Linked DNA regions of Homo sapiens. The protein of the gene in region 1 purifies or fractionates together with the protein of each later gene. This does not show direct contact. Each region holds a gene or a part of one and is shown in the gene's direction. Other genes may lie near its edges. The genes, in order: NSMAF, LYG2, DUSP14 and PREP.

Evidence for each region.
Region 2: the proteins of NSMAF (region 1) and LYG2 purify together in Homo sapiens (affinity purification with mass spectrometry; 2 studies listed by BioGRID and IntAct, with this or other methods). This does not show direct contact.
Region 3: the proteins of NSMAF (region 1) and DUSP14 purify together in Homo sapiens (affinity purification with mass spectrometry; 2 studies listed by BioGRID and IntAct, with this or other methods). This does not show direct contact.
Region 4: the proteins of NSMAF (region 1) and PREP purify together in Homo sapiens (affinity purification with mass spectrometry; 2 studies listed by BioGRID and IntAct, with this or other methods). This does not show direct contact.

What each region holds. Positions count from the first base shown.
Region 1 is NC_000008.11:58,600,839-58,607,866, reverse strand, and holds part of NSMAF (protein FAN), read left to right. Parts: intron 1-26; coding exon 27-98; intron 99-1,831; coding exon 1,832-1,940; intron 1,941-4,456; coding exon of another isoform or gene 4,457-4,480; coding exon 4,481-4,657; intron 4,658-5,729; coding exon 5,730-5,809; intron 5,810-6,331; coding exon 6,332-6,422; intron 6,423-6,518; coding exon 6,519-6,582; intron 6,583-7,028. UniProt on the Homo sapiens protein: Couples the p55 TNF-receptor (TNF-R55 / TNFR1) to neutral sphingomyelinase (N-SMASE). Specifically binds to the N-smase activation domain of TNF-R55. May regulate ceramide production by N-SMASE.
Region 2 is NC_000002.12:99,245,654-99,252,681, reverse strand, and holds part of LYG2 (lysozyme g-like protein 2 precursor), read left to right. Parts: intron 1-5,861; coding exon 5,862-6,002; intron 6,003-7,028. UniProt on the Homo sapiens protein: May act as a potent antibacterial protein that may play a role in the innate immunity.
Region 3 is NC_000017.11:37,506,881-37,513,908, forward strand, and holds the end of DUSP14 (dual specificity protein phosphatase 14), read left to right. Parts: intron 1-3,796; 5' UTR 3,797-3,884; intron 3,885-5,300; 5' UTR 5,301-5,392; coding exon 5,393-5,989; 3' UTR 5,990-6,618; downstream 6,619-7,028. UniProt on the Homo sapiens protein: Involved in the inactivation of MAP kinases. Dephosphorylates ERK, JNK and p38 MAP-kinases. Plays a negative role in TCR signaling by dephosphorylating MAP3K7 adapter TAB1 leading to its inactivation.
Region 4 is NC_000006.12:105,393,064-105,400,091, reverse strand, and holds part of PREP (prolyl endopeptidase), read left to right. Parts: intron 1-2,164; coding exon 2,165-2,239; intron 2,240-7,028. UniProt on the Homo sapiens protein: Cleaves peptide bonds on the C-terminal side of prolyl residues within peptides that are up to approximately 30 amino acids long.

The sequences.
Region 1 (7,028 bases):
TTGAGATTGTCTTTCTACTTTTAAAGAAACCTGTGGTCCAGATAACACTCCAAGATGTCCGCCGCATCTACAAAAGGAGGCACGGCCTCATGCCTCTGGTGAGTCCTTGGGAGGCTGTGCTGGGGCATGATTGTCACACTTTCAGTTTAGCCAGCAGTTTATTGACGGTAAACACTTATGGGATGTCTGAAAGTACAAGTACACTGTCCTGTAAGAAAATAGACTCTGATTTTGCTGTTCTTTCTTTTGGAGAAGGTAGAAATTCATAAAGGAATAACTCTTTCATGTAGAGAAGAGGTTCTATTATGAAGTATTTTTGGCTCCAAGAGCAAGAGGGCTAGAGTGCCCTTGAGTTTCTCATTCGTGCATTCTCAGTTTCTGGGCTCAGGCTAGAATGATCTGTGTAAAACCAACCCTGTGCTGTACTTGCCTCCACCATTCATAGCAGCTAGGTCTCAAAGCAAAATCTGGAAGATGTTACAAAATTACTTCTTTAGTGGAACTAGTATATTCACAGTTAACTTACATTAATTCAACCTTTGGGCTGAATGACAAAATAACCATGTAAAATCATATAGGCAGTTCCTTCCACCATTCCCTGAATAAGTGTATTTCTATACTTAGGTCCTATTTCCGACACATGTCTTACTTTAGTAACCAATCCCTACAGAAGGTATGATTCCAAGTGTTTTAATTCGACACCAATAGAAATTCATTTTTTCTCCTTTGAAGATTAACCAGTAACTTGGTGACATTACAAAAGCATTGTGGAATTTTAATTCTTATTTTTGTGCTTTTAATTTGTGAAATTCTACTGTTTTGCTTCCTATTTTACTTAAAAGGCCATTCCTCCATTTCCAGCACTAATAGCAGATCAGGGAAACAGATACTATTAAAAATCTCCTCTTTTGGGTATAGAGCTGCAGTCAGAAAAAGAGAAGAAATTAACATTGATTAAGTGCTTTCTATGTAACAGGCAATTTATATATAATGTTTCATTTATTCGCCATTATAAGCCTTGTGAAGTAGATAGTATTGTATTTTACAGGTGAAGAAATTGAGACTCCGGGGGTTAACTTCCTAAGCTCCCAGCTAGTACATGGTGAAAGCCTGTATTTGAACCAAGGGTAGCTCTGGGCTTTCATCCTGGCTTTGTCTGTTCCTTTGCTAGCTCAGCCTTACTAACACTATGGTCACAAAGCTCATAGGTTTTTATAAGATAATAATAATGTATTAATTGAATGGGTTATTCAATTATCAATTTGTTAGGTGTGCATAATTTTTATTTATTAGCTGGGCATGGTGCGCCTGTAGCCTTAGCTACTCGAGAGGCTGAGGTGGGAGGATCAATTGAGCCTGGGAGTTTGAGGCTGCAGTGAGCGGTGATCACACCATTGCACTCTAGCCTGGGCAACAGAGCAGGACCTGGTCTCAAAATATATATATGTTATTTAACTTATGAAAGAAAGCTAGACATTTATGTTTGAAGAAGAGATGTGAAGACATGGATCAGCTATTTTTGAATTTCAAAATAACAAGTTCACAAAAGCTATTATTAATGAAAATATTCAACACTCAAGGTGATTTACAAAGTTTAGCTGAGATACTATCTTGTTCTCAAAACATTTATAAATACAACATATATATATATACGCAAACGTATATGTGTATATATATCACTGAGTTAAATTTATAGATTGAAAATAGGAATATAAGTTATAAAAATAAACACAAATGTTTAACTGAATGTTTTTGTAATTATATACTTATATTGGGATTGCAAGATGAATACAATGCTATTTATTTTATTATTTTCTTTTTGAATTTATAGGGCTTGGAAGTATTTTGCACAGAAGATGATCTGTGTTCCGACATCTACCTAAAGTTCTATGAACCTCAAGATAGAGATGATCTCTATTTTTACATTGCCACATACCTAGGTTTGGCGCTCACCCTTCATTGTTTCTTTCTTTTTTTTTTTTTTTTGGAGGCTGAGTCTCGCTCTGTCACCCAGGCTGGAGTGCAGTGGCGTGATCTCGGCTCACTGCAACCTCCGCCTCCTGGGTTCAAGTGATTCTTGTGCCTCAGCCTCCCGAGTAGCTGGGACTACAGGTGCCCGCTACCACGCCAGGCTAATTTTTTTTGTATTTTTAGTAGAGACAGGGTTTCTTTTCATATGAAGGTAGTTCAACTCCTAAGGATCTGGGATAGGAAATAAGAGAAGAAAAATGCTATTTGTAGAATCGCCTCTTTGTGGGTCTAATTTCTTCTCATCAGTAACTATAATTGCCAAAATAATATTTTTAAAATTCTGGGAAATATAAATTCACTTTGATAATAGTTCATTCTGAATGTATGTTTTAAAAACTCTAGATAAATATATTTAAATGCTCTTATATTTTAACGTCCTCCAAATTGAATGGATTTTGAAGAATCCACTCAAATATTTTTATGTTCAGTCAGGTCTTATATTAGTTTATGAGAACCAAGACTCAGTTTTGTACTGCGAGGCAGTGAGTTATTCATATGTTTGTGATCATTGATTGTGGTCAGAACCACAAAGCTGAAAGACTGCAAAAGGAACATGTGAACCTTCTATGCTCAATATACTGACTTTGGAGTGGAATTTGCTTTTAATTAATGATATTTCCTCAGTTTTCCATGGAAAATGTGAATTTTCCCACCTTTGCCAGAGAAAATACTTATATTATGATGTTCAAGCCCAAAGTTTTTTTATTACATTGCAAGGCTAAATTAAATTATTCTAGTTTACAAAGTTGCTAGATAACTGGAAAGGAATTATCTTTAAAAATGGATTTTGGGGCTAGGCATGGTGGCTCATGACTGTAATCCCAGCACTTTCGGAGGCCGAGGAGGGAGAATCTCTTGAGCCCAGGAGTTCGAGACCAGCCTGGGCAACATGGCTTGACCTCATCTCTACAAAAACAATTAAAAATTAGCTGGGACTGGTGGCGTGTGCCTGTAGTCCCAGCTACTCGAGAGGCTGAAGTGGGAGGATCGCTTGAGCCTGGGAGGTCAAGGCTGCAGTGGGCAGTGATCACACCACTGCAATTCAGCCTGGGTGACAGAGTGAGACCCTGTCTCAAAAAAACAAACAAACAAAAAAGGATATTGGGATTTTATTAATATCATCTTAATGTGTTTGTTATTTTAGTGTACCACAAAACTATTTGTGAAATTTGTAGTAAAGTACATCTTCCCTTAGAAATGAAATTTTACTTCAAGGAGGAATACTTGGCTTTCAGTAGGGAACATATTTTATTTTAAAGTAGGTTTATATATATATATTATATATATCTATGTAGTTATATATAGTTTATATATAGTTATATATAGCTAGTATTTTATTCATACATTAAGCTATTGAAGGTAACTTTATGTATAAGTATAGCTTTGTTACAAGTTTACTTTAATTTCCTGTCTCATGATCTAGGTTTTTAAATTTTATTTTTTTTAACTATAACAAGATTACAATAAAAAGATCAACTTTCATGGTGAGTCCTAAAATCTCAAGCCAAAAACTTTGCCATGATCTAAAATATCCATTTTCTAAGAAACTGTCAGTTCTCACTGAGTTTATTCCTAAGATTGTTCATACTTTTTCTGAGGGGTTTCAAAAGTAGAAAACGAGGGGGAAGTGTGTTTTGATTTTTGAAGCCCTTTCCTAGTAGCTGATTAAAGAAGAAACTTGGTAAAAGTAGATGAGAATAAATATTAAGAGTTAAGATGCTTAATGCATCAGGAAAGGTTGAAAGCAGAATTTTCTGAACAAAATGGAAAATCCACTTGTAGGACAGTTAATTCATTTTACACTCTGAAAGGGAAGTTCTCATTGCTGCATTTATCTAAGATCTCATTTTTCCTGAGGTATTTCAGGGGGCAGGTCTGGTTCTTTTAGTTTGAGAATTGGTCCTCCTGCCAAACGCCTGTTTTCTTCTTTAACAATTTCTTTTCTTTTCCTTAGTCTTCACATGCATAAATAATATGTAGTCATTGACAAATTAGCAGTAGTACATCTCTTCCAAGCCTAAAAGAAAACTAAAAGATTGCTTTAATTTCATAAATAATAAAAGAAATAAGCTTTCCCAGATGGCCATGGGTTTTTAAATGCATGGAGACAGCACATTTGGAGGGATTCTTTGTTACTGTATAAATATTACCTATTAACATGTAATATTTATATATTTGCGCTACACTTTTGTATTTGTTTAGGTTATGTCATATTGTGGAGGGTAGTGTAATAGCTCAGTGTATTTAATAATTTCCCCTCCTTGATCTTGGAACTGTTTATACATAGCTGAACAAATACTTTATGAAAACAAGTCAGCAGCCTACTTTTCTTTTTCTTACAATGCATTTTTCAAGAATGCACAGGGATGGTCTACACGTTAAGCCCCTAGCTTTTGCATACTAAGTTTGCGAAGTTAAGTGGCAGACCTCGTGGGTCCTCTTCCCCCAGAGCACCATGTGGCGGAGCACACTGCTGAGAGCTACATGCTGCAGTGGCAGCGTGGACACCTTTCCAACTATCAGTACCTCCTTCACCTCAACAACCTGGCCGACCGCAGCTGCAACGACCTCTCCCAGTACCCTGTGTTTCCATGGATAATACATGATTATTCCAGCTCAGAACTAGGTAACTGCCACACGTGGAATTCTGACCAAGTTGAGTGGGGAGTAGTCATCTGTATTGTTTTTAAAGGACAGAATAAATTCTATTTTATAATTGTGATGTGACATGTGAACAAATTACAACTCATTTCAGTTGTATTGCTAAGGACTGCCAATTTCCATTCCAGGATACTATATAAGTGTTACGTAAGTGTTTCATGTATGTTTTTTCCACCATACTTCTTGAAGGACACACACAGAAAAAATGGGCATGATTTTAACCCAGGGTTATCATTATTACCTATAAGTACCACGTTTTGAAATATTTGCTTCTCACTTTGAAAATTTCACTCACCTTATATTATTTTTAAAAATCACATTAAAAACTGTGATTATTTGTTATAGAACACTTGGAAAGTCCTGAAATAATCAAAGAAGAAAATTAAAATCATCCATAATTATATTACAGAGATAACCACTTTACCTTTGGGGTATATCTACTCTTCTCTTGCTACCACAGATTATTTTAAGAAAAATGTAATTGTATTGTAACTTTATTTTGTAATATTTAAAAATTATATATTGTGAACAGTTAGTTCCTCTTGACACATTATCTTGAACCTTTGTCCTTGAAAGAGATAATAGATTTTCTAGAAATATGATAAAGTATTTCTCTGAAAATATTTAGCTCACTAGTTCTCAAATAGGCTAATATTGAAGAATAATAATATTCACTAGAATTCGAATGTAGAAAGTAAATCTTGGTAGAAGAATAATGGCTTTTAAAATTTTGTTGTTGTTGTTGTTTTACTTGGAATATATATATGTTCCTTAATCAGAAACTTTTTTAAAAAAATTAATGTTCAGGGCATTGTCAAATTAGAGATATTGCTCTTAAGTGGTTGTGTCTAACTTAAAACTCAAAATTGCTAACCTTTTCTTTACATCTACATAAATAACTAACAAAAATAACTCTCATGGATTGCTCTCAATTTTTAAAAAAACTTTTGTGGAAGTAAATGTGTATATTTGAATTAATTCAGGAGGTTAATGGTACTAAGTATAAGCTGAAGTTATTTATTGATTTATGTTTATAGATTTGTCAAATCCAGGAACCTTCCGGGATCTCAGTAAGCCAGTAGGGGCCCTAAATAAGGAACGGCTGGAGAGACTACTGGTATGTGGACTTAGAGATTCTTGGTTTCTAAGCAACACGAGAAGCCATGGCCTGTGTTTTTATGGAAGGAAATTCGTTTCTCCAAGGCTTAGGGGAATTATACCAGTGACTCTACGTAGAGTTTTTTCTTACTTTTCTCCTGACCGTGAATTAGCTGCTCACCATTTGCATTTCTTGTCTGCAGTTTAGGAAGGAGGAGGGCAACCTGTTTACAGGTTCACTGAATTATTTTCATGAAGGCATTCTGTGGTAAATCGCATAAGAGACACATAAAATCAGTTCTATTTAATCTAGTGCCAACATTTTGTTACCATTAAGCCAGGGAAACCAAAATACTTGTCTCAGGAATGCTGTTTAGCCACAGATTTTCTTTCCCTCTTATCTTCTCCTTTTCTTATCTAACAGAGAAATTAAGGAATATGGTATATCTATGTTATGATTTCTTTTAGGCTTTTTCTACTTGTCAGTTATTATTTCATAGCCAACACTTAGCTCTATTTTTTTTTTTTTTCTGTATTCTAGACACGCTACCAGGAAATGCCTGAACCAAAGTTCATGTATGGGAGTCACTACTCTTCCCCGGGTTATGTACTTTTTTATCTTGTTAGGATTGGTAAGATTCTTTATCATTACCCCCAATTAAATTTTATTTCACTGTATTCTTCAATGATTCTGTGACCTGACTTACCTCTGACTTTTTCCCCTCTAGCACCAGAGTATATGCTGTGCCTGCAGAATGGAAGATTTGATAATGCAGATAGAATGTTCAACAGGTTTGATACAAATGCCTTGCTTATCATTTTTAACACTTTCTGATTGTATATATACAACATACTTGTTTCAAAGCACTGGATATAATAAAAAAGTAAAGAAATGTAAAAAATCACTAATTGTTCTATCTATTCCTCTCAGGCTTTTTCTAGACATGTATATGTGTGTGTAAATGTGAGAACATATTTTATGTACAGCTTTTTGTCCTACCTTTTGTAGCCTAATATTAAATCTTAAAGTTTTTCCCATATTATTAGATATTCTTCAAAACAATGATTCTTTTTTAAAATTATTGTATCACATTCTAACATATGCCATATTTTATGTCAACTTCTTTTCTCCATTGTTGGGCATTTAGATTGTTTCCCACACTTTATTATTCTTGATAATTTTGCTGTGAATTGAATACAGCTCCCTGTGTGTATTTAGATGGCTTTACTTTTTAAAT
Region 2 (7,028 bases), on another chromosome or scaffold:
GCCTCCCAGTGAAAGGATACTGAACCTGTCAATATAAGGACACTTGATCCAGATAATTTAAACAATCCCTTTCTGTCTCATTCCTTCATCCATCCAACTATCCATTCTTCCATTCAGCAAATGTTTATTAAATGTCTACTTTGTGCCAAGCATTGTTCCAGGTGCTGAGGAGGATATAGCAGAGAAAAACATCTAGTATCTGACCTAATGAAATTTATCTTCTAGTGAGAGGAACGAACAGTAAGAGAGTGAGAGGAAAAAGGGAAGAGAGAGGGAAAGAGTGAGAGGAAGGGAGGGAGATAAAAACATTTCACCTGTAAAAATTTTTGGGCTGGGCACGGTGGCTCACACCTGTAATCCCTGCACTTTGGGAGGCCGAGGCAGGCGGATCAAGAGGTCAGGAGATTGAGACCATCCTGGCTAACACAGTGATACACCATCTCTACTAAAAATACAAAAAATTAGCCAGGTGTGGTGGCAGGCACCTGTAGTCCCAGCTACTTGGGAGGCTGAGGCAGGAGAATGGCATGAACTTGGGAGGCGGAGCTTGCAGTGAGATAAAAACATTTCACCTGTAAAAATTTTTGGGCTGGGCACGGTGGCTCACACCTGTAATCCCTGCACTTTGGGAGGCCGAGGCAGGCGGATCAAGAGGTCAGGAGATTGAGACCATCCTGGCTAACACAGTGATACACCATCTCTACTAAAAATACAAAAAATTAGCCAGGTGTGGTGGCAGGCACCTGTAGTCCCAGCTACTTGGGAGGCTGAGGCAGGAGAATGGCCACTGCACTCCAGCCTGGGCGACAGAGTGAGACTCCATCTGGAAAAAAAAATTTTTTTTTTTAATGTGTCTCTAACATATAAGGACCAGCTCTGGCACAAAAAGATGTTCCTGGTTCATCTTGAACATTTCCTGCCCCAGGCAGGCAATCAGCCATTATTCTGAGGAGCGCTGGTTCCACTTAGCAGGAAATGGTATTTAGAGACCACAGTGTGGGAAGTAAAAGTGCTCCATTGCTATGGAGCTGTCGTTTATTTCAGGTGTTTTCAGTGGCAGGAACTAGAAAATATATATTTTTAAAAGGAAAACAACTATGCATTCAGATATTTCACATTTATATTTAAGAATGCAAGCATTTTACATCAGTTTTATATTTGTACCTCTGCTATCTTACACTAAAAATCCTAGTTCTAATGACATTAGCATTATTACTTATTTACATACAATAGTGTCAAAATAAGTATGACAGTATTACCAACCAACAATGAGACAGTAAATATAATTTAAGATTTTCTTGTGATTATTTATGTTCACAGGATGGATTCCTATGTAGTGGTATAGACTTATATGGATATATTTTAAAGTCACTTAAGATAATTCTCCTCTATGTGTTTATTAATCTTTCAATTTGTTATAGAGTTATGTTCATTTGTTCTTCTTTTTTATGATTCCATTTTTCCCCATTTGATTTAATTTTAAAATTTATGATAACATTTACATGGTTCCAAAATAAAAACTTTAAAAAAGATAGTTAGTCTATCCCCTATCCCTGTTCCCTTTACCTTCCTCTTACTCTCTCCATAACTAACAATTTTTATCAGTTTTTCATTCATCCTTGTATTGTTTCTTTTGAAAATATGAGCAAATCACACAAAATATACGATTGTATTTTCTTACCTTTCTTACACAAAGAGTACAATTCTATAAATACTATTTTGTCCCTGGAGAGAATTTTACAGGAGTATATACAGGTCTTATTCTTTCCTTTTGCAGCTGCATAGTGCTCCACTGTGGACGTAGCATCACTTACTCAACCAGTCCCTAAATTAATGACATTTGTGTTGTTTGCAGTCCTTTGCTCTTATCAACAGTGCTGGAATGAACAGCCTATCACAAAACTGTGTTCCACAGCAATGTGTGTGACAGCCTATTTCCTCACAACCTCTCCCACAGAGGGTATTGCCAAACCTTTGGGCTCTTGCCAACTAAAGAGTTGGAAAATGCAGCCAGGCGTGGTGGCTCACGCCTGTAATCCCAGCACTTTGGGAGGCCAAGGTGGGCGGATCACAAGGTCAGCAGATCGAGACCATCCTGGCTAACATGCTGAAACCCCGCCTCTACTAAAAATACAAAAAATTAGCCGGGTGTGATGGCAGGCGCCTGTAGTCCCAGCTGCTGGGGAGGCTGAGGCAGGAGAATGGCATGAACCCAGGAGGCGGAGCTTGCAGTGAGCCATGATCGCACCACTGTACTGCAGCCTGGGCGACAGAGCAAGACTCTGTCTCAAAAAAAAAAAAAAAAAAAGAGTTGGAAAATGCTGTTATAATGATGTTTTAATGTGGCCTTTCTCTTCTTTTGAGTGTGGTTTAACGTCTTTTATATGTTTAAGGACTATTTTCTTTTTTTGTCTATAAACTCGCTATATATTCTGCTGATAAGGTGATATTTGGACAGAGACCTGAAGGCATGATCATGTAGATACCAGGAGGAATAGCATTCTAGGCAAAAGGGACCACAAACATACAGGCTTTGAGGCAGAAACCTGCCTGGCATGTTGAAGGATAAGCACAAAGAAGAATGTGGCTGGAGGAGAGTGAACAAAGGGAAAGAGAAGTAGGAACAGGAGCAGAGGGCCACATCTAGTAGGTCTTGGAGGCTGCAGGATGGACTTGGCTATTCCCCTAAAGGAGGAGAAAGCCACTGGAAGGTTAAGAGAGAAGACTGATAGCAGCCCATGCATATTCCCACAGGGCCACTCCGTCTACTAAGTAGAGGATGGGCTGCAAGAGTGAATCAGGGAGGTCAGTTAGAAGGCTGTTAGGAGAGTCCAGATGAGCAATGATGCTGGCTGGGACTATGGCAGAAGCAGAGGTGGGAGAAGTGGTTAGATTCTTTTTTTTTTTTTTTTTTTTTTTTGAGACAGAGTTTCGCTCTTTTTGCCCAGGCTGGAGTGCAATGGCGCGATCTCGGCTCACTGCATCCTCCTCCTCCTGGGTTCAAGCGATTCTTCTGCCTCAGCCTCCCGAGTAGCTGGGATTACAGGCATGCACCACCATGCCTGGCTAATTTTGTATTTTTAGTAGAGATGGGTTTCTCCGTGTTGGTCAGACTGGTCTTGAACTCCCGACCTCAGGTGATCCGCCTGCCTTGGCCTCCCAAAGTGCTGGGATTACAGGTGTGAGCCACCACGCCCAACCAGATTCTATTTTTTTTACATCAAACATTTTAACAAAATCCTTTTTTTTTTTTTTGAGATTTGAGACAGGGTCTTGTTCTGTTGCCCAGGCTGGAGTGCAGTGGCACCATCAAAGCTCACTGCAGCCTCGACCTCCCGGGTTCAATCAATCTTCCTGTCTCAGTCTCCCATGCAACTGGGACTACAGGCATGTGCCACTACACCAGGCTAATTTTTGTATTTTTTGTAGAAATGAGTTTTGCCATGTTGCATAGGCTGGTCTCAAACTCCTACGCTCAAGCAATCGTCCTGCCTCAGCCTCTCAAAGTGCTGGGATTCTAGGCATAAGCCACAACATCCAGCCCTAAGTACTGTCTTATAACAAATATTTGGACTCTTAAGGTACAAGTTAACAGTCCTTGAAACCGTTAGAACAAACTTTTCAACATTACAGAAAATAACTTTGTATCTCCTTTAGCAAAAGCTCTGCCTCTCCTGTAACAGGTAGACTTGGACAGAAATTCACTTTTTAATGACAGAACAAAAAGACAAGAATAGATTTGACTTAAATTATTTTGGCAAATTCAATTTTTACTTCTAATTTTATTAAATATACATAGGAACTCAACTTCACAGTAAATGATATATAATAAGAATATATTTAAATTGTTATGGTGCCCTTCTTTCTTATCTTTCTAAACAAAGGCAAATTGGTTTTTTTTGAATTTTATTTATTTATTTTTATTTTATTTTATTTTATTTTATTATTATTATACTTTAAGTTTTAGGGTACATGTGCACAATGTGCAGGTTAGTTACATATGTATACATGTGCCATGCTGGTGTGCTGCACCCATTAACTCGTCATTTAGCATTAGGTATATCTCCTAATGCTATCCCTCCCCCCTCCCTCCACCCCACAACAGTCCCCAGAGTGTGATGTTCCCCTTCCTGTGTCCATGTGTTCTCATTGTTCAATTCCCACCTATGAGTGAGAACATGTGGTGTTTGGTTTTTTGTCCTTGGTGATAGTTTACTGAGAATGATGATTTCCAATTTCATCCATGTCCCTACAAAGGACATGAAGTCATCATTTTTTATGGCTGCATAGTATTCCATGGTGTATATGTGCCACATTTTCTTAATCCAGTCTATCATTGTTGGACATTTGGGTTGGTTCCAAGTTTTTGCTATTGTGAATAGTGCCGCAATAAACATACGTGTGCATGTGTCTTTATAGCAGCATGATTTATAGTCCTTTGGGTATATACCCAGTAATGGGATGGCAGGGTCAAATGGTATTTCTAGTTCTAGATCCCTGAGGAATCGCCACACTGACTTCCACAATGGTTGAACTAGTTTACAGTCCCACCAACAGTGTAAAAGTGTTCCTATTTCTCCACATCCTCTCCAGCACCTGTTGTTGCCTGACTTTTTAATGATTGCCATTCTAACTGGTGTGAGATGGTATCTCATTGTGGTTTTGATTTGCATTTTTCTGATAGCCAGTGATGGTGAGCATTTTTTCATGTGTTTTTTGGCTGCATAAATGTCTTCTTTTGAGAAGTGTCTGTTCATGTACTTCGCCCACTTTTTGATGGGGTTGTTTGTTTTTTTCTTGTAAATTTGTTTGAGTTCATTGTAGATTCTGGATATTAGCCCTTTGTCAGATGAGTAGGTTGCGAAAATTTTCTCCCATTTTGTAGGTTGCCTGTTCACTCTGATGGTAGTTTCTTTTGCTGTGCAGAAGCTCTTTAGTTTAATTAGACCCCATTTGTCAATTTTGGCTTAAGAAAGGCAAATTGTTAATCTAGATGTTCACATCTCCAGAGGCATTTGTGTCAGAAATGTTTTAAAATTCCTCTCAAAACAATAGACACTGGGGACTGTAAAAGGAAGGAGGGAGGGAGGAAGGTAGGGAGGCAAGGGTTGAAAACTACACATCAGGTACTGTGTTCACTATTTGGGTGAAGGATCAATAGAAGGCCAATCCTCAGCATCACACAATATGCCCACGTAACAAACCTGCACATGTACCCCCTGAATCTTAAAAAAAAAAAAAAAACTCTCAAGTTTCCTGCTTAAAAACCTGTCAGTTTTAATTCTGACATAGAGCATGGTATGACTACAGTGCCTGTAATCCCAGCACTTTGGGAGGCCAAGGAGAGAGGATCGCTTGAGCACAGGAGTTTGAGACTAGCTTGGGCAACATAGCAAAACCCCATCTCTACAAAAAGAGAAAATAAGCCAGTCCTGGTGATATGCACCTGTGGTTCCAGCTACTCAGGAGGCTGGGGTGGGAGGATAGTTTGAGCCCAGGTGTTGGTGCCTGCAGCGAGCTATGATCATGCCACTGCACTCCAGCCTGGACAACAGAGCAAGACCTTGTCTCTTAAAAAAAGGAAAAAAAAAGACTGCACATGTATTTAGGATCTATAAGAGATGAATTTCATAATATTTTGCATAGAGTTTTCAGATTACGTCCTGTGTTAATACAAAACAAAACAAAAGATCGGAGCAGAGTGGGCATGGGGAACTTCTGTCTGAGGAACAAATAATGGCAACAAGAGAGTTGGGGAGTTCTGTCTGTGGCCTTCTGCCTTTGGTTTAGTGATGTTTATTGCAGCAACCCAAGTAATATCTTCTCAGAGGATTCATGTGAGTTACACTTCTGCCTCCTAGGCACTTCCAGGGGCTCATACCCCTTCAGTCACTCAATGAAGCCTCACCTACATCCACGCCTGTACCACGGCTGCTATGGGGACATCATGACCATGAAGACCTCTGGGGCCACTTGTGATGCAAACAGTGTGATGAACTGCGGTAAGTGAAAAGCAGAGCAAATGACTGGCTTCCCCCTTTCATCGTTTTCAGATTCTTTCTTAGGAAGTCACTTAATTTTGAAAAGGTATAATCATCATTATGACAATAGTATCAAAATTAAAAATGAGCAAAAACCACAATCCTGACCAATCTAACAACCAGCTTCTTTTCATTTTCCACCCCCATTCTTTCCAAACTTTGTCCAGCTGTGTTTATTTCCATGTATTGAAACTACTGCTTGAATAAATATTAGACTCTGGCTTTGTTTTTTGGGTGGTGCTGCTGTGTTTGCTTCATGTTACACATGACCATTTGAAGCAATACTGTTCCAAAGTCGTCTTCATCACGTTATCCTGGTTTTAGAGTGTCGGAGCTGGCAGCAACCACAAGGTCACATCAGACCCCAACCCCTCAAATTTACAAATCAGAGCCCAAAGACTCAGCAAGGAGGGGAATACTTCCCAATAGAACAGAACCAACTAGTGGCGGAGCCAGGCTAAAACATGCATTGGCTAACTCCTAGTACAACAGGCTTCCCAGTGCACTAGTGTGGCAGAATTTTTTTTGTGTGTATGACAGAGTCTTGCTTTGTCACCCAGGCTGGAGTGCGATGGCATGATCTCGGCTCACTACAATCTCCACCTCCCAGGTTCAAGCGATTCTCCTGCCTCAGTCTCCTGAGTAGCTGGGGTTACAGGTGCCTGCCACCAAGTCCAGCTAATTTTTGTATTTTTAGTAGAGATGGGGTTTCACCATGTTGGCCAGGCTAGTCTTGAGCTCCTGACCTCAAGTGATCTGTCCACCTCGGCCTCCCAAAGTGCTGGGATTACAGGCATGAGCAATTTGAAGGAGAAACAGAGCAGAAGCGACACCTGTTGGGGGTTGTGGATCTGTTTGTTTCTGCAGTCAGAGATCAAAAGGATGTCTTAGAATGGTTGTCCCAAGTCATTAGCAGTGATCAGAGGCTGTGGCTAACTTAGCAAATTTTTAAAAATGGTTTTCTTCTGAAGTAGAAGAAACAGTTTC
Region 3 (7,028 bases), on another chromosome or scaffold:
TGGGCTTAGCCTTTCTGTAAGTAGCACTGAAACACCTTCTTAGGCAGATCCACACCCCCCCGCGTGTGTGGCAGACGCTGGCTGGTGGTGTGGAGCGCCGCGAGGCAGGTGATGAGAACACAGCCACGATTTAGTCACCGCAGAGAAGCAGTGTGTGGACTTGAGCTAGAAATCCGGACACCTTCCATCTTTTCCTAGTTTCACTTCTCAAGTTGAAATCTCTCACCCTTTCTGAACCATGTATTTTCCAATCTGTCAAGGGGGTCAGGAGTGTTTGTCAGAGAAGCATCTATAGCATCTGTGCCCTCTACGTGCCCTCTGGCGGAAGTTGTTTTCCTGAAACTTTGGACCAGCTTTGGCATTTTAAGCAGGTTTGTTGGCAAAGAGATGGACTGGCAGCAGCAGGGAGGGAGCAATGTGTCTGTCTCACTTGGATTCTGCCCCGAGGGCTCACAATCTGTTTTCCCTGCAGCACCAAGTACCCTAGCGCCACTCAGCAAATGCGAGTTAACGGAATCAGCCCGGCTTCTACAGGGAACCTGGGCTCCTTTGCCTCAGGAAGGCAAGTGGCTTCCCAGACAGCGTAATTTGGGAGGATGCATCGCTCTGCCACCCAGGCTGGAGTGCAATGGCGCGATCTCAGCTCACTGCAGCCTCTTCCTCCCGGGTTCAAGCGATTCTCTTGGCTCAGCCTCCCTACTAGCTGGGATTATAGGCATGCACCACTGCACCTGGCTAATTTTTGTATTTTTAGTAGAGACGGGGTTTCACCATGTTGCCCAGGCTGGTCTCAGGTGATCTGCCCGCCTCGGCCTCCCAAAGTGCTGGGATTATAGGCGTAAGCCACCGTGTCTATGGCCAAGCCTCTCTGAATTAGACAACAACTAGATAACCTACTTGGAAATTTGATTAGCATCTTCCAGATTTTCCACAATGAGGAGCGTCATCCCCAGCAGCTTGAAGGCCTAATTTTGTGTTTATTACCACAGTGACTTTGCTTTTTAAACCAGTAGGATTCTGCCAGGGAAGACTTGGAAGTGGCAGGAGACCCTGCTCTGCTGTAGGAAAGGATGTTCTCAGAGTTTCTGCCCTGTTCATAGTTTACATCCAATGCACACACACGCAGTTTCCTTATGTGACTGCGTCCTTGTTCCTCCTCATGCTGTGATTTCACCTGTGGACTGCTCTGTGTACTCCCATAGCATTAACCAGTCATGGGATGTGGGCTCCCAAAGCGAGGCCTAGCCTCGAGTGAGGAGGCAGCTCCCTTCAGAGAAGGGCAGTGTCCAGGAGGGACTTGTGGTCTGTTAGCACCAGTACACCTGGTGCCTCAGTCTTCCAGGGGGAATGCAGACAGAGCCACAGCACTCACCTCTGCAGCAGTTCTCAGACGTGCCCCCGACCCGCAGCCTCACCTCAGAAAGGCAACTCTTCCAGCCCCACTCTGGAGGGACGGAATCAGAAGCTGGGGAAAGGTCCAGCAGTCTGTGCGCACAGCCCTCTGGGGGATTCTGAGGCATGCTCAGGTTTGAGAGCCCCTGCATTATAATGATAGAAATAGTTGTAAATGGAGCCAGGCACAGTGGCTCATGCCTGTAATCCCAGCACCTTGGGAGGCCAAGGTGGGTGGATCACTTGAGGTCAGGAGTTTGAGACCAGCCTGGCCAATGTGGCAAAACTCCGTCTCTACTTAAAGTACAAAAAATAGCAACGTGTGGTGGTGCACGCCTGTAATCCCAGCTACTCAGGAGGCTGAGGCAGGAGAATCTCTTGAACCTGGGAGGTGGAGGTTGCAGTGAGCTGAGATTGCGCCACTGCACTCCAGCCTGGGTGACAGAGCCAGACTCCATCTCAATATATATATATATATATGTATGTATAAATAAATATATATGTATATTTATAAACTTTTTTTTTCAAAAACCATTTTAAAATGTTAAACATACGTGTCATAGGACCCAGCCCTTCACTCCTGGGTATTGAACTGAGAGAGGAAGGCATATGTACGCACAAAGACCTGTACGTGGATGCTCATAGCAGCTGTACTCACAATACCTTTAAACTAGAGACAACCCAGGTTCATCAGTAGGTGAATGGATAAACAGAGTGTGGTGTATCTACACAGCAGAGTACTTAAGAAGTGAGCTGTTGATAACCCAGCGTCATGGGTGAATGTCTAAGTTATGCAGAGTGAAAGAAGCCAGACCAAAAAAAAAAAAAACCCATATATATATATATATATATATATACACACACACACACACACACACACACACACACACACACACTCTATATATATATGTACTATGTATATGTGTACTATATATGTATATATACACTATATATACACACTATATACACACTATATATATATATATATATATATATATATATATATATATATATATATATATATAGTGTGTGTGTGTGTGTGTGTGTGTGTGTTTAGTTTTTGAGACAGAGTCTTGCTCTGTTGCCCAGGCTGGAGTGCAGTGGTGCAATTTCGGCTCCACTGCAACCTCCACCTCCTCCTGGGTTCTAGTGATTCTCCTGCCTCAGCCACCCAAGTAGCTGGGATTACAGGTGTGTGCCATCATGCCCGGATAATTTTGGTATTTTTAGTAGAGACCTGGGTTTCTCCACATTGGCAAGGCTGGTCTCGAACTCCTGGCCTCAAGTGATCCACCCGCCTCGGCCTCCCAAAGTGTTGGGATTACAGGCGTGATCCACCACGCTTGGCCTATATATATTTATATGCTATAAATATATAAAAGTCCATTGATAGAAAAGTCTAGAGTGCAAACCATAGTGATAAGAAAGATCAGTGGTTGCCTGGGAATGGGGTAAAGAGCAAGAAAGGGTTGGATTATTAAAAAAAATGAGGAAATTTTGAGGGGGATGATGGATGTGTTTATTATTATGATGTACTGGTGTCTCCATTGTGTACATATGTCAGAACTCATCAGGTAATGTACCTGATCAAGTTGTATAGCAGTTTATATGTCAAGAACACCTCAACAGAGCTGTAAAAAAAACACGACAGGTCTGACAGTTACCTGGGAAAGGTGGGGGAACAGGTGGTAGAAGAACACATTTTTTATGATGTTCATGGTACTTACATAACATAAATGAATAAAATAGGGCCAACATGGAAAAGAAAACAAAATGAAGGAAAATGTCAAATTGCCATCCTGAACACCAGCACCGCCTGTAATTAGCGTTCCTGGCTGCAGCCACATCTGCGGTCCTGCTCCTCATGAAGCCGTCCTCCGTGCCATGTCCCGGCCATGCCTGTCCTTAGCTTCCTGGTGCACACTGTCCTCCACCTTGTGTTCAGGCACAGGGCTGCTTGGCTCACCCTTGCTGCACCTGGCCTGTCCGTCCTCCCACCGCGGTGCCGCCCAGGCCTTCCCACTGCAGGGCTGGCTAACGGTGCATGGAAGAGACTCGAGTCCGTGTTGTGTCCTCATAGCCCACCGAGGAGGCAGCAGTGCCGGACATTTCGCGGATAGGTTGTGGTCTCTGAGTCTCCTCCTCTCAAGAGGATGAGATTTGTCTGTGTTATTGTCAAAACTCTTATTTGTCACGCCGCGGGTTATGTGTCAGTAACAAAAAGCTGAGATTTAGGCCGGTGTTTCTTACTGGTGCAGCCTTTAAATGCACACCTGCGAATGTTCAGTGCACCTTCCGCTTCCTGGCTCTATTTCAGTCAAACCTGAGGTCGTAGTGAAAGTCGGTGAGGAATTCTTTGGAACTTCCTGATTGGCTGTGTCCTTGCCTCCTTGTCTTCCCGCAGATTTGATTTGTATCCACTGTCACCAGCACTGCTCACTTAGGACTTTCTGGATCCGGACCCAGGCAGCGCACACTGGACTCTTGAGGAAGTGAGTACCCCACCACTGCCTGCCTGTTGAACCCGGGGAGGCTCTTGTCTGACTGAAATCACTGCAGGCTTCCCGACGATCCCCTGGGTGTGTGTGGGCAGGCGCACTTGCCACTGGGCACAGGTGATAAAGCATTGTGATTTTTTTTTTTGGTGAGAGGAACGGATGTATCTAAGATCTCAGGAAACTGAGAACTTCCTTTTCTGCTCTTATTAAATGTCAATATATATATAATATATATCAATATATATGTAAATGTATATATTGACATTTAATAGCAAACACTGGAATAATGAGAGGATAGTGACGTTCAGACGTTAAAAGCCAGTGGGCTTCATCGTGGAGCTCAGAATTAAGGTGAAGTTATTTAGCCACACCCAAGGTCAGGTCAGGTAAAATGCTCATTTAACTTACAGGAATGAACTTTGAAGACCATGGCCTTCAAATTGCCTGGGATTATTTCCATGGAAATGCTACTGTGTTTACATTGTCACGAAATGATAGGAAATAGTTTTTGGTTTGGGTTTTTGTTTTTGTTTTGAGACAGAGTCTGTCACCCAGGCTGGAGTATAGTGGCACGATCTCAGCTAGTTGCAACCTCCGCCTCCCAGGTTCAAGCGTGTCTCTTGCCTCAGCCTCCCGAGTAGCTGGGATTACAGGTGCTCGCCACCATGCTCAGCTAATTTTTGTATTTTTAGTAGAGACAGGGTTTCCCAATGTTGGCCAGGCTGGTCTCGAACTCCTGACCTCAGGTGATCCACCCGCCTCAGCCTCCCAAAGTACTGGGATTACAGGCATGAGCTACCTCACCTGGCCTTTCCTTTTTTTTTTTTTTTTTTAGAAGCTGGGTCTCCCTGTTGCCCAGGTTGCAGTGTGGTGGTGGTGCAATCACAGCTCACTGCAGCCTCGACCTCCCAGGCTCAAGTGATCTGCCCACCTCAGTCTCCTGAGTAGCTGGGACTACAGGCATGCACTACCACACCCAGCTAATTAAAAAAAAATAAAAAATAAAAAATAAAAAGTTTTTTTGTAGAGATGGGGTCTCACTGTGTTGCCCAGGCTGGTCTTCTGGTCTTGAACTCCTGGGCTTAAGCAATCCTCCCACCTCAGCCTCCCAAAGTGCTGGGATTACATGTATGAGCCACCATGCCCAGCCACCCCCCCCCCACCCCACTTTTTTTTTTTTTTTTTTGGACAATCACCAGAGAGCTGAATTTTACATTGATTTCACATGTTTGTGTCTTAGGTGACTTTTCCCAACTGTTAATTGATAGAAAATGATTTGTCTGTATCCTTGAAAGATTGTACTGTATTATTTAAAAAAAAACCCTCTAATCTTCCCATTTGACAAATGTGACAGAAGGCTGTGATGAATCAGTAGCATTTAAAGTACTGACACATACCTGTATTTTGCAGGAAGGAGACTCTAATTTTGGATTCCTTGGTGGAGGAAAATAAAACACTCTGGTCTTGCCGCCAACGATGCAAGTGTGACTGCTGGCGTCTTCATGAGCTCCAGAGGTCACAGCACGCTACCAAGGACTCTCATGGCCCCTCGGATGATTTCCGAGGGAGACATAGGAGGCATTGCTCAAATCACCTCCTCTCTATTCCTGGGCAGAGGCAGTGTGGCCTCCAATCGGCACCTCCTCCAGGCTCGTGGCATCACCTGCATTGTTAATGCTACCATTGAGATCCCTAATTTCAACTGGCCCCAATTTGAGTATGTTAAAGTGCCTCTGGCTGACATGCCGCATGCCCCCATTGGACTGTACTTTGACACCGTGGCTGACAAGATCCACAGTGTGAGCAGGAAGCACGGGGCCACCTTGGTGCACTGTGCTGCAGGGGTGAGCCGCTCAGCCACGCTGTGTATCGCGTACCTGATGAAATTCCACAACGTGTGCCTGCTGGAGGCGTACAACTGGGTGAAAGCCCGGCGACCTGTCATCAGGCCCAACGTAGGCTTCTGGAGGCAACTGATAGACTACGAGCGCCAGCTCTTTGGGAAGTCGACAGTTAAAATGGTACAGACACCTTATGGCATAGTTCCCGACGTCTATGAGAAGGAGTCCCGACACCTGATGCCTTACTGGGGGATTTAGTGCCACTGAAGCCTGCGTCAGCAGCCCGAGCGGGGCCGGCATCTGCTCCCCGCCGTCTGCTCCCTCTCCACTCTCTTCTCAAATGGCTGACTTCTGGTTCTCCCTCAAGTGTTTTTTACACTGGGTGTTCAAATTTATTTTAAGAGATAGGGAGGGAGGGGACATAAAGGGAATGCATACATTGCTAGTCACATTTTTAAAATTAACATTTTGGAATAGTGTTTATGGAAATCTTTAGCTTTTAATCATTTTTACCAATTTGAACAGTTTAATAAACTGGTTCTGCTCTCTTCTGAATCTCATGCCTTTGGCACCTTGGTAGGTGCAGGAGGAGCTCAGTGCAAAAATCACTTTGGGGCCTCATTAACCCTTTAGAGACAAGCTTTGCCCCAGGCTGCGGACCAGACAGATGCTTAGGGAAGGTTGATAACCAGCTTCAGTCTCTACTGGATTAGCCCTACTCTTTCCTTTCCCCTCCATTATTTAGTGACTCTGTAAGTAAGTTAAATACACCCTTATTATTTAGCTGTTAAGTAACTATAATGAAATCTGCTGCAAAATCTCTCTTGGAATCCATGTGCCCAGGATTATATTAGCATTATTTTTAATAAATCTATATGCTTAACATATTAGAATTTTTACTAATAATTTCAAGGTGTGTGTGTGTCGATGATGGGAAAAAGGTGCTCTCCAGTAACTAACTAACTAACTGCTGAAATGTGGCTCCTGTGCCAGTTGGGAACATTACTTAAAATACACATCCCAGCAGAGTCTTGTCGGCGCGTCACATCCTGGTGGACAGGCAGACACACCGTCCCCGGTGCTGGGCCGGTGGGAGATGATTGATAGTGCACGCTCTGATCAGGGGTGCTGGTTTTGGTTTCCTCTTGGTTAGTGGAGCGCCCCGAAGCAGCGTGTCCTCCATCAGAGAAACTGGTTTTCAATAAAAGGTGCCTCTGCTTGACTATTATTACCACATACGAAAATGCCCTAAACCAAACCTCAGTATGAGCGATAAGCAAGTAACAAAAACAAACAA
Region 4 (7,028 bases), on another chromosome or scaffold:
TGGGATTAACTCTGGAATTGTCCTGGAGAGAATGTTTCTTGTCCTAGTTAAAAATATCTGATCAATAACTTCCATCTGCTGTAGATGATGGTGCCCGGTCTGGGCAGATAGGGCTGCTTGGTGTAAAATTCTAGATATGCCTGAATTTAGTAACATAATCCAGGAACATTTTTTAAGTGTCTATTCTGGCCCCTCTGATGAGTGTTTGGGGAAAAGGGTGGGCTGACTGCTTTAGTCCCAGGTCTGGTTCTGAACTTGATATGGTTCTGGGCATGTTACCCAGCCTTATCCCTGCTGTTGCTCCTAGAAGTGCATGATTGAAAGATGCTTTACAATTCAAAATTTTCTGATTTCTTAATGCTAGGAAAAGCAGATTGTTATTTTAAGCCTATTTTATAACCACTTCAAGGTGTGTAAAACGTAAAAGACTTGCAGATGAGAAGAAAAGATGAAAAGCTGTTGTTCGGTGGTGACAATCTGCTAAAATTTAGAGAGGTCAGAATTGAAAATTGGTAACTTTATGAAGACCCATCTGGAGAGGCTTTAGTCGGGTTTTATGTTCCTTGCTCTTGTTTTTACGTCCCTTGCTCAGTCAGTTGTTTAATGAAAATATATACAGAGTGTTCTGGCTTACCTGCCCATTTATCCAGTTGTGCATTTCCCCAGGAGTTCTTTGACCTGGCATCAGACAAGGACAGATGTGGAAAGCCCGGTGTTGTAAGGGCCAAGGAGATTGTTCTCACCCAGCCAGAGCCACACTGGAACTAGAGCAGCACTAGGTTTTCTTTAGGAAATAGCCCTTACCTTCTGGCATTGTAGAACAAAGCAAGGAGACAGATTAAAAAATTCATCTGAGATAGAGGTAGTCTTCCCAACAGCTTTATACAAGAAGCCTTAACTAGAATGTTGGAGTGGTTCAGAGACTTGATTGGCAAGACATTGTCAGTGTGGTTTCATTAATGGGGTTAATCTTTTTTTTTTTCTGAGATGAAGTCTTGCTCTGTTGCCCGGGCTGGAGTGCAATAGGCGTTGTCTCAGCTCACTGCAACCTCTGCCTCCTGGGTTCAGGAGACTCCCCTGCCTTAGCCTCCCGAGTAGCTGGGATTACAGCACCTGCCACCATGCCCGGCTAATTTTTAAATTTTGAGTAGAGACAGGATTTCAGCATGTTGGCCAGGCTGGTCTTGAACTCCTGACCTCAAGTGATCCGCCTGCCTCAGTCTCCCAAAGTGCTGGGATTATGGCTGTGAGCCACTGCACTCTGTCCTAATGGGGTTAATCTTGATGGTATCAGGTGGAGAGATTTTGTAATGATTTTTACTGCTGGATAATTTCTTTTGGCATAATCACTTGAGGAGTGGTGAAAACTGTTTCTACTTGCTCCTTCAAACGCCTTCAAGTGGCTTCTAAGGCCAGGCCTTAGAAGCTCCAGAAAGCTTCCTTCAGCCAGGTTCTACTTACACTAAGCAGTTTTATTTCTTCCAATATCATGGTAACCTGAATGGGTGATGCTTTTGCACCTTCTTTTTGTAAACAGTGGAAAAAAGCATTTCATAACAGTAAATAAAAAGGAAGAAAGGCATTAGTTTTAAAATGTTTTGCCATTGCATTTAAGTCAGCTTTTTGAACTTATGTCAATTAGAATCATTATACTACATATTAGTAACTTGCTTTTTGGCAGTTTAGACATAAAAGCAAACCTGGGCTATATTGCAGGGAGATTTTCTAATCATTGGGAAGCTCAGCGGAACAGGAGAATGAGCACGTGTGTGTTAGCCCCCTCCCTGACGTGCCCTTCTTGTGTGCCCACTGTATTGTCCACTGTATTGTGTCATTCTGTGCTTGGCTGCTGACAGCACGTTTTCAAGTTTCTTTAGCACAGTGGCAGGTCTTTGTTTTGTGTTGTAGGGACAGAGCGGTTTCCTGTTCTGACCTTTCATCTTTCTTTCCTCTCTAGCTGAAACATTCTTTTCATGAAGGGTGGCTTGACACCTTTGAGAACCTGCCAACTTTGGTTCATGTGGTAATTTGGGCAGACACGTTGCCAGTGAGCCAATTAGCATTTTTGTCCATCCCTTTCCTATTTCTCCATTACATTAAAAAAATACCAGTTTTAATTGGGGTTAGAGAGTAATTATCTAATACCTCATTTTGTTTTTTACAGGTACAGGATTATCATGGTCATAAAATTTGTGACCCTTACGCCTGGCTTGAAGACCCCGACAGTGAACAGACTAAGGTAATTTGGTTTCTAATTAAAGATAAGGCAGCCTTAGTAGCTAGCACCAAACTCTAAATGTCAGTAACTATAGCTTTTCCTTTCTGGTGTTCTCCTGTGTTTTCTGCCATGGGATGGTGAGTATACCTGTTGTTACCACTACTTTTTGTCAAATAATTTATGGGAAAAAGACAAAAGCATGGCTTAGTCCCAGAGAAGATCACCTAAGTGTTTCAGATAATGTTTATGGTTCATAGTGACACTGATGAGCTATTTTAAATGAAAATATCAGAAAGAAAACTGATTTTTGCCAAAAGAAAAAATGAAAACCTAGATAGAAATGATGTTAAAGGAAAAAATTGCCTAAATATTTTTTTCCAAAGAAAAGGAAATCTTGTATATGAAATGAATATTAGGTCATGAAAACTGAACACTGTCCTTAAATTGCTTATTGATGTCAACACAACAACAGTGAAACAAAAGCTAAGTAGTGAAGGGGCAGGGGGGAGCATTTTCTGCCCTAAAAACATAAAGCTTTCATATTCTTTTGGAGAAACAGTATTTCAAGGATCCTGCTGAAGTCCATTCAGTAATGAAGGTGGCCCTAAGTCCTATGTCCCACAGACATTTTTCCCTTTTTGGAGTGCCTAGGACTTGTCACTTATGTATACTTTTTTTTTTTTTTTTTGTAGACAGAGTCTTACTCTGTCACCCAGGCTGTAGGGCACTGGTGCGATCTTGGCTCACTGCAACCTCCGCCTCCTGGGTTCAAGCAATTCTTGTACCTCAGCCTCCCGAGTAGCTGGGATTACAGGCATGTGCCACCACACCCGGCTAGTTTTTGTATTTTTAGTAGAGACGGGGGTTTCACCATGTTGGCCAGGCTGGTCTCGAACTCCTGGCCTCAAGTGATCCTCCCGCCTCGGCCTCCCAAAGTGTTGGGATTACAAGTGTGCACCATCGCGCCCAGCCCATTTATGTGTACTTTATGTAGTTAATTAAGTTTGCTTGGTTGGGGGAATAGTGTTTCTCAAGTTCATCTTAAGTTCTTGGATTCTTCTATTTATAACCATAGTACATAATACTTAGTACATATTTGCAGTTTCTGATATGTTCAGCATCCCAAAATTTATTCGAGCTTCTTTAGAGTTGCAGGGTACGTTTCCCATTTAAAAAAAAAAAAGGTTAAATGGCACTCTAGGTAGTTTTTCAGGCCAGTCTTCAAACGCCTGTGTCTTAACTCCGCCTGTTTCTTGCAGTCCCTTTCCACCGTATATACCAGTGTTCTCTGGAGACCTGAATTCAGATTTGCCAGGAAAGCATCCCTTCCTGATGTAGAATTGCCCATCTCCCCACTGGGACAAGGAAAGGGATGGAGTGAAGAGCTTAGCCAGAGCATGATGGTATATGGAGAAAAGAGAGAAAGTAGAGGCAGGGGAGTAAACCACATGATCATCTCTTTCTTCTTCCTTTAGTCTCAAGCACTGGCTCACCTGCTTTCTGCTATCCTCACCTGTTCTTTGTGAGTAGTGTCTCTCCTTTGCCCACTGCAAAGCTCTTACAACTTCTTTTTATCCTTTGTCCCTAAAGTAAGCACACTGCTATTTTGAGATTTCCTAATGGTTTTTACTTTTATCTGCAATCCTACATTCTTTCTCTAACTCCCTTCAAGAAAGACAAAGATCTCATGGATGAGAATGGTTGATATTTGGGGTTTAATTTTTCTTTCCAGAAGCACTGGGTTATAGTAGTGGATGGGCAGAAATTCCAAAGTGAGAAACACCTGAGTATCTTTAGGAATGGTGAAGGCTGTAGCTCTGCAGGTAAGTCTGAGGGGACAGAGAACAGGTGTGGGGTTACCTCCCCACTTCATCCCTGCCATAGATTACCTTGATTGTTCAACACTGGGCTGACTGAGACAGAGGGATTGGGTCTGGGAGTGGAGAGTCACATGCACCTGCATAACCTGTACTGGCTAGAAAGCACCAGGGAAAGGATGAAGTTCCTGTGCATCTCTTGGAAAACTGTCTCTAAGGACCTGATGATTTCTTCACCTGAAGTATCGGCTATAACCTGGATTTCTACAGCCTTTGATGGTGATTGAGTGATTTAGCACTGTCAAAATGACCCAGGTTTTATCTGTTAGTGAATGTATACTTTGCTGTTCCTTAGTTGATAATGACAGGTTCGTGGATGACAAGCCACTTATTAGTGGATATCAGGCTTCCAATTAGTGGATGAAACTGCTAATTAATGATCTTATAGTCAGCACTTGATAGAAACTAAGACATTGGAGTATACACTATTTTTGTGGTATACATTTCTTGGATGGTTACCATGTGCCAGGCACTTTACCGGGAGTTCTGCATTCCCTGTTTCATTTAATTCTCAAATTCTGAAATATATCTTTTTATTTCCCCCATTTTACAGATGAAGAAATTGAGGTGCTGAGTGATTAAATATGTTGTCCATGGCTACTCAGCTAGTAAGTGTGTAGTCAAGGGTAACCCAGGTAGACGAGGTGGTTATCAATTACACATTAAAAAATAAGTAAAAGTAAAAAGACTGGGTGTAATACTTTGCAGATGCGAGCTAAAGGAATGTATTCATGTCTGTGCTTGCCATGTGCCTTTGTAGGCCCTCAGGTGTGAACCCTGGGCCAGCCCCCACTCCCATGCTGACCTGTTCTTTTTTAAAATATATATATTTTTTAAATTGTAATAATTCAGAGTACTGTGATCTTACATCCTTCTCTGACTTCATATTCTACCATGGCAATTTTTCATGTTAGAAAGCAATCTTTGCAGCCCAGAATTTTAATAGTGATACTATTTCATCAGGCAGATGCACTATATTATGCCTAATGACTTCTGTTGGAAATGATTGTTTTCAACTTTTCACTATTACAAATAATGTCCCAAATGTCCCAAACAAGCACTTTTCTAGATCTCCACATTTCTGACAATGACATGATTACTTGTTGCAGTAGCCTTGAAATCTCTTCTCCATTCTCAGGTATTTGCTTTTTGTCGTTGCTATCAAATGGGTTCCTTTTTCATTATTGATGGCATATACAAGTGTTACTGACTCTTTTGTTAGAGACAGGGTCTTGCTGTTGCCCAGGCTGGAGTACAGCCATCTTCTGGGCTCCAGCCATCTTCCTGCCTTAGCCTCCCAAGTAGCTGGGACTACAGGCGCACACCACCATGCCTGGCTAAACTAGCTACTGCTACCGATTTTATATTTATTTTGTACCTAGTTCCCTTACTGAACTCACCAAATTTTCAGTTATTTCCCTTAGATTTTTAGATACATAATCATATAACATATAATCAAATTTAGTGATAATTCTATTTTCTCTTCTATCAAACTTTGGTTATTTTATATATTTTGTACCTAGTAATTTTTTTGAACTCACAGATTTGAATAAGTTTTCAGCTATTTCCCTTAGGTTTTCTAGATACATAATCATATCATCTACAATCAATTATTATTTTCTCCTCTACCAAATTTCGGTTCAGGTCTTATTGAATTGGTCAAAGCTCTGCAAAACATGTAAGAATAGTAGTGAGAAAGAACTTTCTAGCCTAGTGTTTAAATTGTTATTTTGAATGATATTTGTCATCTTGTTTAAGCATTGTTATTCCTACTTTTAGTTTTGGATTTTGATTTCTTTTTAATACCAATCAGGGTAATTATATAGCTTCACTAATATATTAATATTAAAATGTCCTTGAATTCCTGTGATAAAATTCCATTTTTAATCTGTTTTTATGTTCCTTACAACTATATTTACAAGAAAAGTTGGTCAATATCTTGTTATCCAATATAATAACCACTAGCCACTTGTAGCTCCTGAGGACCTGAAATGTGGCTAGTCTGAATTGATTACATGTTGTAAGCATAAAATACATGCTGGATTTCAAACACTTAGTTTGAAAAAAAAAAAAGTAAAATACCTTAATATTTTATATGGATTACATAAAACCAGTCAGGACATTAGAAACATCTGTAGCTCTCTTATAAGATCTGAAATAGAGTTTCGATTTAATCTAGTATTTAATACAGGTTGGCCAATCCTGCCACTGCCTAGCATTTAAGGCTATATCCTTTATAAAACAAAATCAGAGAAGACTTGTAATGGAAAATTCTCAAAAACAGAGTTGAAATGATTTGTGTGTAGTGGATTAAATAAAATATATTATTGAAATTAATTTTTTTTTCCTTAATGTGGCTACTAGAAATTTTTAAATTGTATATGTAGCTTGCATAATGTATCTACTGGACAGCGCTGCTCCTCTGTTTCTTTACAAAATATCTCTGTTAACATATTTCATATCAGCGTTAGATTTGCTTCAGAGAATCAACTGAATTGTGTGTTGCCTTGTACAGTCTGAAGCATTTGCTATAAAATAGCAATATGGGCCTTGACAGCTAGAAAAGATTCATCCAGATTCAACTCTCCCTCTACCCCCTGCCCCGCCCCTGTTTTTGAGAATTTTCTGTTACAAGTCTGCTCTGGTTTTGTTTTATAAAGGATATAGCCTTAAACGCCAGGCACTGTCAGAATTAGCCAACCTAAATTAAATACTAGATTAAATCCAAGACCTACTGGTAGCATTTCAGATCTTATAAAAGAGCTACAGATGTTTCTCACTTCTTGAATGGTTTTTATTGGAAATGTAATAAGCAGCTTTTTGTTTTAGAAGCTCTGTAAAGATTCTCCTCTTTACAGCAAGGTATGGCTAATACACCTTTGTGTATATGCTAATAATGTGAATAGAAAATGTTCATGCTGCTTTTCTGCTCT